Linked DNA regions of Homo sapiens: region 1 is linked to region 2. The links come from fine-mapping of genetic effects on plasma protein levels. A gene starts in region 2. The other region holds a variant in brackets. All regions are shown on one strand. Distances are between the middles of the regions. Region 1 overlaps ZNF740 (zinc finger protein 740). Region 2 holds the start of ITGB7 (integrin subunit beta 7).

What was found. PIP is the posterior inclusion probability: the model's chance that the variant is causal. Protein levels are from antibody-based Olink assays in UK Biobank. Linkage for the fine-mapping came from a reference panel and not from the study's own genotypes, which makes the PIPs less certain.
Region 1: its variant is fine-mapped to the plasma level of the ITGB7 protein (UK Biobank, PIP above 0.99). The variant lies in the coding sequence of ITGB7. If it changes the protein, the assay may bind it differently, which can mimic a change of level.

Annotation. Positions count from the first base shown.
Region 1 is chr12:53,188,060-53,193,499 of GRCh38, forward strand. ZNF740 (zinc finger protein 740) reads left to right here. Exons shown (of 7, transcript NM_001004304.4): 7 at 1-5,440. ITGB7 (integrin subunit beta 7) reads right to left here. Exons shown (of 16, transcript NM_000889.3): 12 at 5,081-5,304; 13 at 4,632-4,851; 14 at 4,271-4,479; 15 at 3,800-3,960; 16 at 3,264-3,577. The coding sequence ends at 3,497. Among named protein-coding and RNA genes, the nearest start is that of CSAD, 9.9 kb to the left of the region's middle. RefSeq lists a silencer at 2,026-2,320. The variant C/T (reference allele first, on the strand shown) is at 4,693.
Region 2 is chr12:53,205,286-53,210,285 of GRCh38, forward strand. It overlaps ITGB7 (integrin subunit beta 7), which reads right to left and starts at 1,966. Exons shown (of 16, transcript NM_000889.3): 1 at 1,917-1,966. RefSeq lists an enhancer at 6-95.

The DNA of each region.
Region 1 (5,440 bases), 17 kb before region 2:
TAGCTGGTCCAGCTCTCCCCAAAAATTGGGTTTTTAGTTGCAGTAGCTCCTCAGTGTTTCACAATCCTGCACTTCGCCTCCTTTTTGAGGAAGAATAAGGTCAGGAATGGCAGCTGAGCTTACTTTGGCTTCCTTATACACTGTAGGGACAAAAGGAAAAACGGGGTGGAGCAGACAAGGGCTGGATCCAAAAAGTGGATGGCACCTCTTCCTTCCTCAAGGGAAAAGGAAGAGTTGTGCCAGTGGGTGTTGTCATGGCCCATGTCACATTGGCACCTGATGGCATCAGCTCAAATGCCTTTAGGAGGAAACTTGGGTGAGAGTGGCCCATGAAGCCCTTTTCTTCTTTTTTTGGGGAGTCGGTCTTGGAGATGGTATGTGGCTACCTCGCTGCCATTGACTCCTAAAGTGAGACAGATGTGTTGAGCAAGGAGTCATGGAAGTCAAAGTGGGTTCTCTCTCCTTGTGCCCTCTTAGGAACAACCCAAGACTGGTCCCAAGTTGGCTAACAGCTGCTCAAGAAACAAAGGAATCTGGGGTCTTCTGACATGCCTGTTGAGCAGTAGGAGCTGTTCTCCCTCCCCAAGTCCTATCACTGTATTCAGGTAGAGGAGGTAGGGAGGGGTCTGTCCTTTGGTCCCAAAAAACAAGATCTCGGCTTGCTTCCTGATGGCCATCCCTACCCAACAGAGTGTGGGGGATGGGGGTGGGGGTGCTGCAGAGAAAAGACTAAAGAAGAAACCTAATGTAGGTTCCATTCTTAACCATATTCTTTGCTCCTCTCTGCTCCAATACCACCACCTTGTCCACTCCCAAAAAAGTAATCGGGTGTGTGTGTGTGTGTGAGAGAGAGTGTGTGTGAGATATGAATGCATGTATTTGTATGCTTGCAGGAGATGGCATATTATTGAGCCAAACCCTTCTCTGGCCCTCACCTTCAGGGAGGATGAGTGGAAAATAGCCTCCTCTTGCCCAAACATGAAGGGTGCTTGAGGTCTCAGCAGGAGCTGAAGAACACAATTTGGGGAACAGAAGGGCTTTTGTTTTGGAGGGTTTTTTTTTTTAAGATGAATTCAACAGCCTGGTGGTTAGGATGTTTCTAACCCAAGCCAGGGCTTGTGAACATGAATTTTCTAAGGTGAAATAAACCTTTTCTTTCTGCTAAAGAAAGAATCCTTATGGGAAGTTTTGGGGTTTGGTTGACCCCCACTGTAACCTGACCTGACCTGTGGCGGGTACGGGAACTGTCTTAGTAATCATGGAGACTGGCTGAACCTGAGTGCCAAGCTGTCAGTAGGGTCTGAGATGGGAAACTCCTGAAAGTATGATTTCATTTCCCAGAAAATGTAAAGAATGGATACCAGCAATGATTCCTGGCTGTTACCTATTCTGGAGGGGTGGGGTTGGGGAGGGGGTTGTCCATACCTCTGTGGTATGAGTATTTCAGGGAAAAAGAAAGCAGGCATGGCACCCATTCGATTTTCCCTGACAGCATCTGAGATCCTTTTGGGGAGACGCTGAGGAGTGTTTGCTGCCATGTACTCTTACAGCTCTATGCTGACACTCCCATTTGATGTGGTCCAGAACTTAGACCTCAGTCCTTGGATCAGCCCTGTGGTCCCTGCAAGCAGGGGCATCTTTCTGCATGTGAGCCAGCCCCCTTCCTGTTCAAGGGTTCTGCTGGATCTGGGCTTTTCCTGTCCTTCACTTCTGGGATGATTCACCCCACATCTTCCAGTACCCTGTAAACCATTTTAAAATATTTAGAAAACTATCCTCCCAAAAATGCTTTTGAAAATGAGAGCCCTCTGTCCCTGCCACTTACAGCTAGTCTCTTTGGGATAGGGGTGTATGTGGAGAGATTCATGTAAGTCTCACATGAGTGACCTGTGCCCCTATGTGTACTAATGTGTGTACTGGGTCAGAAGGTGCCCTGGGTTCCCACAGACCTTGGTTTCCTGCCTGGGTGGGTGGGAGGGAGGGAACTTCAGAGAGTATGTGCGAACAGCCATAGCAGAGCCACCCCTGCCAAGGACCCAGTGAGGGAAACTCAGGAGCAGGTGGTTGGTTCAGTTCCCGCGCTGATGTCTGGGGCAGTGCATGTGTGAGAAGAGAGGCGCAAAGCAGTGAAAGGAGTGATTTGGCATCCAGAGGGCCCGGGAGCCCCACGGATACCCCAGGGAAGCCACTGACTCACACCGCTGCAGAGGCTCCTGGGCCCAATGCCCGACCCCTGCTGGCCAGCATGGGGCCTAGCACTGGAAGATGCCTCAGGTGTGTTTGGAGTGGGGGAAACGGAAGTAGGGCACGCTCTCAGAGACCAGGATAGAGAGTCAGGGAACCTGGGAAAGAGTAGTGCCAGTTCCGGGTAGGCTGCTGCACCAGGCCCTACCAGCTCAGGCTATAAACAGTCTGCTTTGCCCCAAGTCTTTTCCGTCCACCCCCAACAGCCTTGTCATCACTTAGCTACTGATCACGCCCATGGCTTGACATTGGAGGGTTACATTAGTGGAGTCCGCCACAGCTTCGAACCCTCTCCCCAGATGCCCTTTGCCTCTGCTGTGGCCCTGGGGTTTTATCAACTGTCCCCTTCCTATCCTCCTCTCCACCCTGTTTTTTGTTTTTTTTTTTTTTAAATAATATTTTGCTATGGGGGAGGGGAATATCAAATGGACAAGATCACTTTTAAATGGTAGTTTTTATAAGATGTTATAAACTTGTATCTTTTTACCATTAAAGTGCAGTGTATGTTCCTTCGTGATATATTTAGGATATTTAAATAAAAGGAAAATGGGGCTTTTCTACATACTATCTCCTCTTTGGGGAAGCTTTTTCATACTGGTTTTAGTTGTTTTCCTTTTTTCTCCCTACATAATCACCCCACAACTTCCAGCACCCTATAAGCCATTTTAAAACCCCTTCTCCACAGAGGAACAAGCAAGTAGGAGCAAAAACAGGGCATCAGTTCTGAGCAAGACGAAAAAGCACACGCAGCAGGACGGAAGGAGGCTAGACACCAACAGATGCAGTGTCTCTGACCTGGGACCCCCCTGCATCCGCAGCACTTGAGAATTCATAGGCCCTTTCCAGACCTGGCTTCCTGGGTCCCAGGGTGCACCCCGGGAGTTTCCTGCACATTCGCGCTTGGGCACCTCTCCCTGCCCTCAGGTGGCAAGAGGAGGATGGACAAGAGCTTTCCCGAGGCCCAGGCTATAAACAGTCTGCTTTGGCCTTGATGAGGTAAAGCAAAGTGACAGCTGTGGTCTGAGGTAAGACTTTATTGTATACTTGGGTGGGGTAGCCCAGATGGATGCAAGGTTGCAGGCATGGGAAGCAGCCCTCTTGGGTGTCACTCTGAAAATGAAGTAGGGTGGTGGCCGCACCTCGCCAGTGAATTAGTCCCCTACCAAGGTCTTACAGACCCACCCTTCCTCTCACCCTCCAGTTCCCACTGTCCTCCAAGGAGAAGAGCCTTGGGTAAGTGTCCCTCCCTCCTTCAGAGAGTGGGACTGTCTGCCTCTTGAAAGCGAGGATTGATGGTGGTCGTGATGGCACTTTTGTAGAGAGGATTACTGTCCTGGAGAAAGATGTTGCAGATTATAAGCAAAAATCCCAGGATTCCTCGTCCCCTTTCTAGACCTAAGAGGCCAGCCTTGAGCCGAATCCTAGGAGCTGATGGAAGTTAGCAGAGGGGTTGGTTACATGTGCCAGGGGCTGGGGGAACCCAGTGGGAGGAATCAGGGCTGGTCTTGTGGTGGGGGAACAGCTAAAAAGGGGCCTAACCAGGAAGTCTCCTCACCTGCTTCCAGTTGAGTTGTTGCTGCTCCTTCTCAAAGCGACTGTATTCCCGGCGGTCATAGATTTCCACCGAGAGCCGGTAAGCCAGGACCAGCCCCAGCCCCACTGCCACGATGCCCCCTACGCAGCCCAGCACAATGGCCTGCGTGTGGTCTGCTCCCTCTGTGAACAAGAAACCAGACACACTTGTGGGAGCTGGAGCATAGGGACAGATCATCAGTTGCTCACAGTGTGTCCAGCCTGTCCAACCCTGTCTGTCACTGAAAGCAAAGGGAACCCAGGGAGGTCCAAGGTTATCCTCACCGCCCAGGGCCTTAGCCTCGTCCACTTGCTCAATTGCCTCTGCCTTTGTCCTGGATTCACAGTTCTGCTTCAGCCCCCAGCCTGTTTCCCATTATCTTCACTCTGCATCCCCAGAGTTGAGACCCTGCCCATCAAACTTCCAGGGTTTGTGGCATCCCTGCCCACTTACTTTCTTGGGGTCTCACTCTGAGCACGACCGTGCCTCTGGCGTCATCCTCCACCAAGAAGAAGAACAGCTGGTTGTCCAGGGTCCGCTCTTTGCACCAGCCATCATCCAAGATAGGGGCCAAGGCCAGGGTCACATTGGTATGGGCACAAGCTGTACTGCAGTTGGTGGCCAGTGGGCCAGTCCTGAAGGCCCCACACTCTGCACAGTCCCTGTGTAGTAGATGCCAATAGGTTACCAGCTGGGCAGTTGTCACCCAATGCCCCTTGCCCAACTACAAGCAGGACGGAGAGTAGGCAGATGGGAGTAGCTCAACAAGCCCCACTGTGCCCCTGCTCCCAAGATGCAAGACCTGAGGCCTCACCGGTGTCTCTCGCATGGTGTCTTGCAGCCTGGGCATTGGTCGCATAGAGCACCATAGTAGC[C/T]GTCCAAGCACTGGCAGCGGTTGCATTTGCAGCGTCCATGCCCACTGCAGAGCCCTCCCTCGGGACTGATGCAACTGTCCATGTCCCCACTGCATTCGCATGCTCTGCCCGTGCGGTTGGCATGACAGTGACATACTCCACATTGGCAGCGACCAAAGCCTGGGGTAGAGCCATGCAGAGGGTGACAACCATACTCCACACACACAGTTGGCCATCATGTGGCACGACAAGCCCACGCATCCAATCTTTTTGAAGTATGCCAACCACACCCTCTAACCCATACACCGGAATCTTTTGATATTTGCCTTCCATGCCAGGAGATTCCCAGAGCCTAAGTGCCTTGGGAAGGCCTCTCAGACCCCGCCCTTCTCCCCAAGGCTCCAGGTACCTCCGCAGAGGATGCCCTCATGTCGCTCACAGCTGGCATCGTCACACTCGCACAGATGCCCAGAGCTCTGTCCACTGCAGCTGCAGCGTCCACATTGACAGTGACCCTTTCCACTGCACAGGGGCCCTGTGCCATTGGGAGCCCGGCACCCAGATTCCAGGTCTGGGGAGGACAGCTCTGCCACAGAGCACTCACAGAGCCGACCTAGGCGGCCAGGGGCACAGCTGGAAGGGGAAGGCAAAGGAGAGAAGTAGGTCAGAGGGTTTGATCACCCCTGACTTGTCTCTCCCAGGAACCTCTAAACCCAAGTTCTCAAAAGAGTTGGAGACAGACAAACAGCTGAAAGGATGTTAAGTATAG
Region 2 (5,000 bases):
TTGATCCTTCCACCTCAGCCTCCCGAGTAGCTGGTACTACAGGCGCATGCTACCATGTCTGGCTAATTATTTTTGTATTATTTTGCAGAGATGGGGCTTCCCCATGTTGCCCAGGCTGGTCTAGAACTCCTGAGCTCAAGCGACCCACCTGCCTCGGCCTCCCAAATTGCCGTGATTACAGGCGTGAGCCATCACCCCCAGCCAAATGTCATGTATTTATCATTTCACACGTCTGCAACTGAATCTGTAGGATAAATCCCTAGCAGAGGACGTGCAGGATAACTAGATAGGTATCATTTGTAATACTGGTGTGTATTTCATCTACATTCTCATGCTAAGAAATATATATATATAGGTGGGTATTGCCAACATAAACTCTTCAGGACTTGTACTGGTCCACATTCCCATCAGCAATGTATGAGAAAGGCCAACTAACTCCTTGTCATAAACCATTTGCATCTTCTTCAGCCTGGGCCCAGAGTCAGGTCCAGATACTCTGCACAGAGTGTGGGAAAGGGGTGGGGTGTTGAGTCCTTGAATGTCCTGGTCCTGCTCCCCACCACCTGTGACCTCAGGCGCCATATATAACGGAGCCTCCACCCCTCGGGGAGAGGCCAGTCCCAGCTCAGCCTCAGCGTAACCTCAGCCCTGCTTGCTCTGCATGCCTGTGGTCAGGGAGGCTGGAGATGCTGCAACCCAAAGCCGGGTTTTGACTCATCTCTCACAAGTGGAGCCCCGGCTGCCGCATAGGTTTTTCAGAGACCTTAGGCCCACTCATCTCCCCTTAAAGGGGGCCCTGGGACTTCCTGGACAGCCCTTTCCTACCTTTCTTTCCAATTATCCTCTCTTCTCCCCTCCTTGAGAATACATGTTCTGCCACCTATTTCTCTGTCTGCTTCTCTGTCTCTCTCTGGCTCCTTTCATTTCAAAACTTCTATTGCATCTCTCTGCTGCTTTTCTCTGCTCCACTTCTTCATAGGGCTATTTTACTTCCTTTTCCCCTCTGTTCCTAACTATAGAATGGCTGAATCTACTACTCCATCCCACTCTTTTTACAAATGGAAACCTAAATTCCATGAGGCCAGGGTCACCCAGTGAACTAGGGGCAGGGCAGGACAGGGCAGGGCCAGGCCTCTGCTGTGCTTTCTCCTTTCCTCCCTCCAACCCAGGCACTATCTCCATCAAAAGTTGTGTTCTCTCCCCACTAGCCCTGGTGGGCTCTGCCTAATCCCATTTCTCTTTCCTTAGGGGTATTCTGCAGTCTTCCCTTCTCTCTCTGGGACCAAGTGGTTATTTCCATTTTTCTGGACTCCATTCTGACTCCAGTACACACCCTGTGACCCCCCTCAGCAGCTGAGAAACAGAGCCTCTTCCAAACCCATCCCTACCTTCCAAATCAAGCAGAACCCTCTGCTGCCCACTGGGAGTCACAAGGAGGGGACGGAACTGAGCTGCTGGGCCTCAGTGTCCCAGGACAGTGGAGTCTGTGACCAAGGTGCCGATTAGGAAGAAGTCTGAGCTGAAGGCAGAGCATTAGGGATAGCAGCTGGGGGTGATGTTGGAAGAACCCTCCCTCAGTATAATCGGTATACCTGCCCTACTTCGGTATAGTCCTTGGCACATGGCAGGCACTCAGATGACAGCACTCATATACATCCCTGCCTCCAGACCCACTCATGGGAAACTGATGCAGGAGAGATTGGGCTTTTGGAGAGGTGGAGGTGGGGGTACTGTGAAACTGGAGGAGGGAACCAGGTCAGGGGATCTTAGGAATGCAGAAAGGAGTTCAGAGCCTTTCTCAAGTCTGGACAGGACCCTCGGTATCCAGGTCAGAGCCCTCTTCCCAAGAGGTTGGGACCAGGTGGGCCAGAGCTTGTAAGGAGAGGAGGCAGAAGGGCTGGTGCCCTGGTACTCACAGGTGCGTGCAGAGCAGTCCTTCCTCTGGCGGCAGCAGCAGCCTTTGTGTACTGATCTGGGAGACGGCAGAGGAGGAAGTGACACTCCCCAGGGTGGGGAAGATTTGGGGTTGGTGGGGGTGACTGATCTAGAAGGTGGTGCAGATAGGGGTGGGGCTGAGCCAAGGGAGTGGACAATACAGAGATCTGGAAGAAAGAAGCCCATTTATTGAACCCCTGTCATGTGTTGAACGTAACATATTACAATTAACCCTCACAACAATCTCATAAGATAGGGGTTAATATTCCCCCAAGCCCCAATTTTACAGATGCAGAGATTGAGGCTTGGAAGCAGGAAATAAAGAATTTTGCCCAAGGTCCCACAGCTAGTAAGTAGCTAGTCTAGGATTTAAAAAAAAAAAAGAAAAAAGATTTTTATTTTAAATTTTTATTATTTTATTTTTTTTATTTTAATTTAATTTAACTTTTGAGACAGGGTCTTGCTCTGTTTCCCAGGCACAATCTCAGCTCACTGTCCCATGGCACAATCTCAGCTCACTGCAAACTCCGCCTCCCAGGTTCAAGCGATTCTCCTGCCTCAGCCTCCCGAATAGCTGGGATTACAGGGGTGCACTACCATGCCCAGCAACGTTTTATATTCTTAATAGAGACGGGGTTTCACCATGTTGGCCAGGCTGGTCTCAAACTCTTGACCTCAATTGATCTGCCCACCTCGGCCTCCCAAAGTGCTGGGATTACAGGTGTGGGCCACCATGCCCAGCCTGTTTTTTATTTTTGAGACAGGGTCTTGCTGTGTTGCCCAGGCTGGTCTGTAACTCCTGGACTCAAGCAATCCTCCCACTTTGGCCTCCTGAGTAGCTGGGATTACAGGCACACTCGGCTGGTCTGGGATTTAAATCCAGGTCTGCCTGCCTCCAAAATTCATGATCTCTCCATTTACTTATATAGGAAGGAACATGATAGGAGGGAATAGGGGCAGTAAGTACTGTAGAGAGGCCAGAAATTACAGACTTGTTCATTTTGAAAACCCAGGATACATTATATAAGTGTGCTTGACTACATAGGCTCTGGAGCCAAGTTGCTAGAGTTCAAATCCTGGCTCTACTACTTACTAGTAGTAAGGAGCTTAGCTGAGTTACTTAAACCTGCCTGCAGCTGTTTTCTCATCTGTCCAGCAAGACTCACAGGATTGTCGTGAGAATTAAAAGAGATAATTCATATCAATTGCCTACAAGACTACCTGGCACATACTAAGTAAGGGCTTGATAAGAGAATTAGTAGGGATGAGAAGTAGCAGAGGTGAGAAGTGAAGAGGCTTTGAGAAATTCAAGGTCCACACAACTGGAAACTTGGAAGAGAGAGGCATAGGGCCAGGCTCAGAGCATGTGATTGGGGAACCAGGAGCCAACACAGTAGTGGATCCTGGGAAAGGGGTGGAGGAGGTGAACTGGGAGAAGCAGAGAGTGCAGGAACAACAGCTGAAGCCAAGGCAAGGATGAAGCCCGTAGGGAGAGCAGGAAAATATTAATGGGATTTGCTCCTGGCCCATACAGATCACTAAGAGCTTTGAGAGGGAACTAGACATGAGGTCTGTGTTCACAGGTCGATCTCCCCTACCAGAAGGAGCACTCCTTGTAGGCAGGGACTGGCTCTACAAGGCTTCCCTGCTGGAGCCACCACACCTAGCCAAGTGCCCATCTTATAGTAGGTGCTCAATAAATGTCAGATGGATTGCAGAGGTGTAGCTGCTAGGAGGGGACAATTGGAGAGGAGGGGCTCTTTCTCTGGGTGGGCTTGGCTGGCCTCAGGCTATGGGATAGCCAGGACCTATACCCTTCCCCCACAACCAGGGGTTACCACGGCAATGACCCTCCTTCCCCACAGGCCCTGTGGTTTCCTCTAGAGCTTCTTTCACTTTCTTCTTCTGCTTTCCGCCCTCCACTCTTCTCTCCCCTACTCCCACATCCTCAACTTTTTTGTCATAACCACAGGTCACCAATGAAGAGAGCCAGGAACAAGGTAGGCAAGGCACTGTCCCAGGGAAGGTAGGACACGGAGGAGGGGCTTGAGGGGAGTCACAGAGGGCGAAGGGAAGAGTACAGGGTGCAGCAGTAGAGGCCAAAGGCACTGCAAAGGCGTGTTGCAGAGGGAAGGCGTGTGGGAGCAAGGACAGATATTCGGAAAGAAGGTAACAGTGCAGGTGGCAGTGAGTGGAGGTCATGGGGTGAAGAGTGGGAACAGAGAGGGTGGGGGGAGTAAGGTATAAGGTGATAGCAGGGTGGTTGGGGACAGAAGGCCAGAGGGCTCCCTGGGTGAGGGGCTGGTGTAAAACAGTAACACTGTAGCTTAGATGCGGGCTTCTTCTCTTCTGGGGCCAGGAGCCCTCATGAGAACTAAATGAAACTTCAGGGCAGGCATGGTGGCTCACGCCTGTAATCTCAACACTTTGGGAGGCTGAAGTAGGTGGATCACTTGAGGTCAGGAGTTCGAGACCAGCCTAGCCAACATGGTGAAACCCCATCTCTACTAAAAATACAAAAATTAGCTGAGCATGGTGGTGCGCCCCTGTAATCCCAGCTACTTGGGAGGCTGAGGCAGGAGAATCGCTTGAACCCGGGAGGCAGAAGTTGCAGTGAGCCAAGATCACACCACTGCACTCCAGACTGGGCAACAGGAGTGAAATTCCGTCTCAAGAAAAAAAATGAAAAACAAAAAGATAAATAAAACTTCAATGGACTCCTTCCCCAGAGAAAAGCAGATATGCACATATGCATAACTGGAGGTGGAGACAGGCTTACAGACCTCTGAAGTCCATTCATGCCCTCCCAGAGATCCACAGGATCCAACATAAGAACCCACACCAAGCTAGACGCAGTGGCTCACGCCTGTAATCCCAGCACTTTGGGAGTCCAAGGCAGGCGGATCACCTGAGGTCAGGAGTTCGAGACCAGCCTGGCCAACATGGCGAAACCTGTCTCTACTAAAAATAAAAAAAATTAGCTGGGCGTGGTGGTGCACCCCTGTAATTGCAGCTACTCGGGAGGCTGAGGCAAGAGAATTGCTTGAACCTGGGAAGTGGAGGTT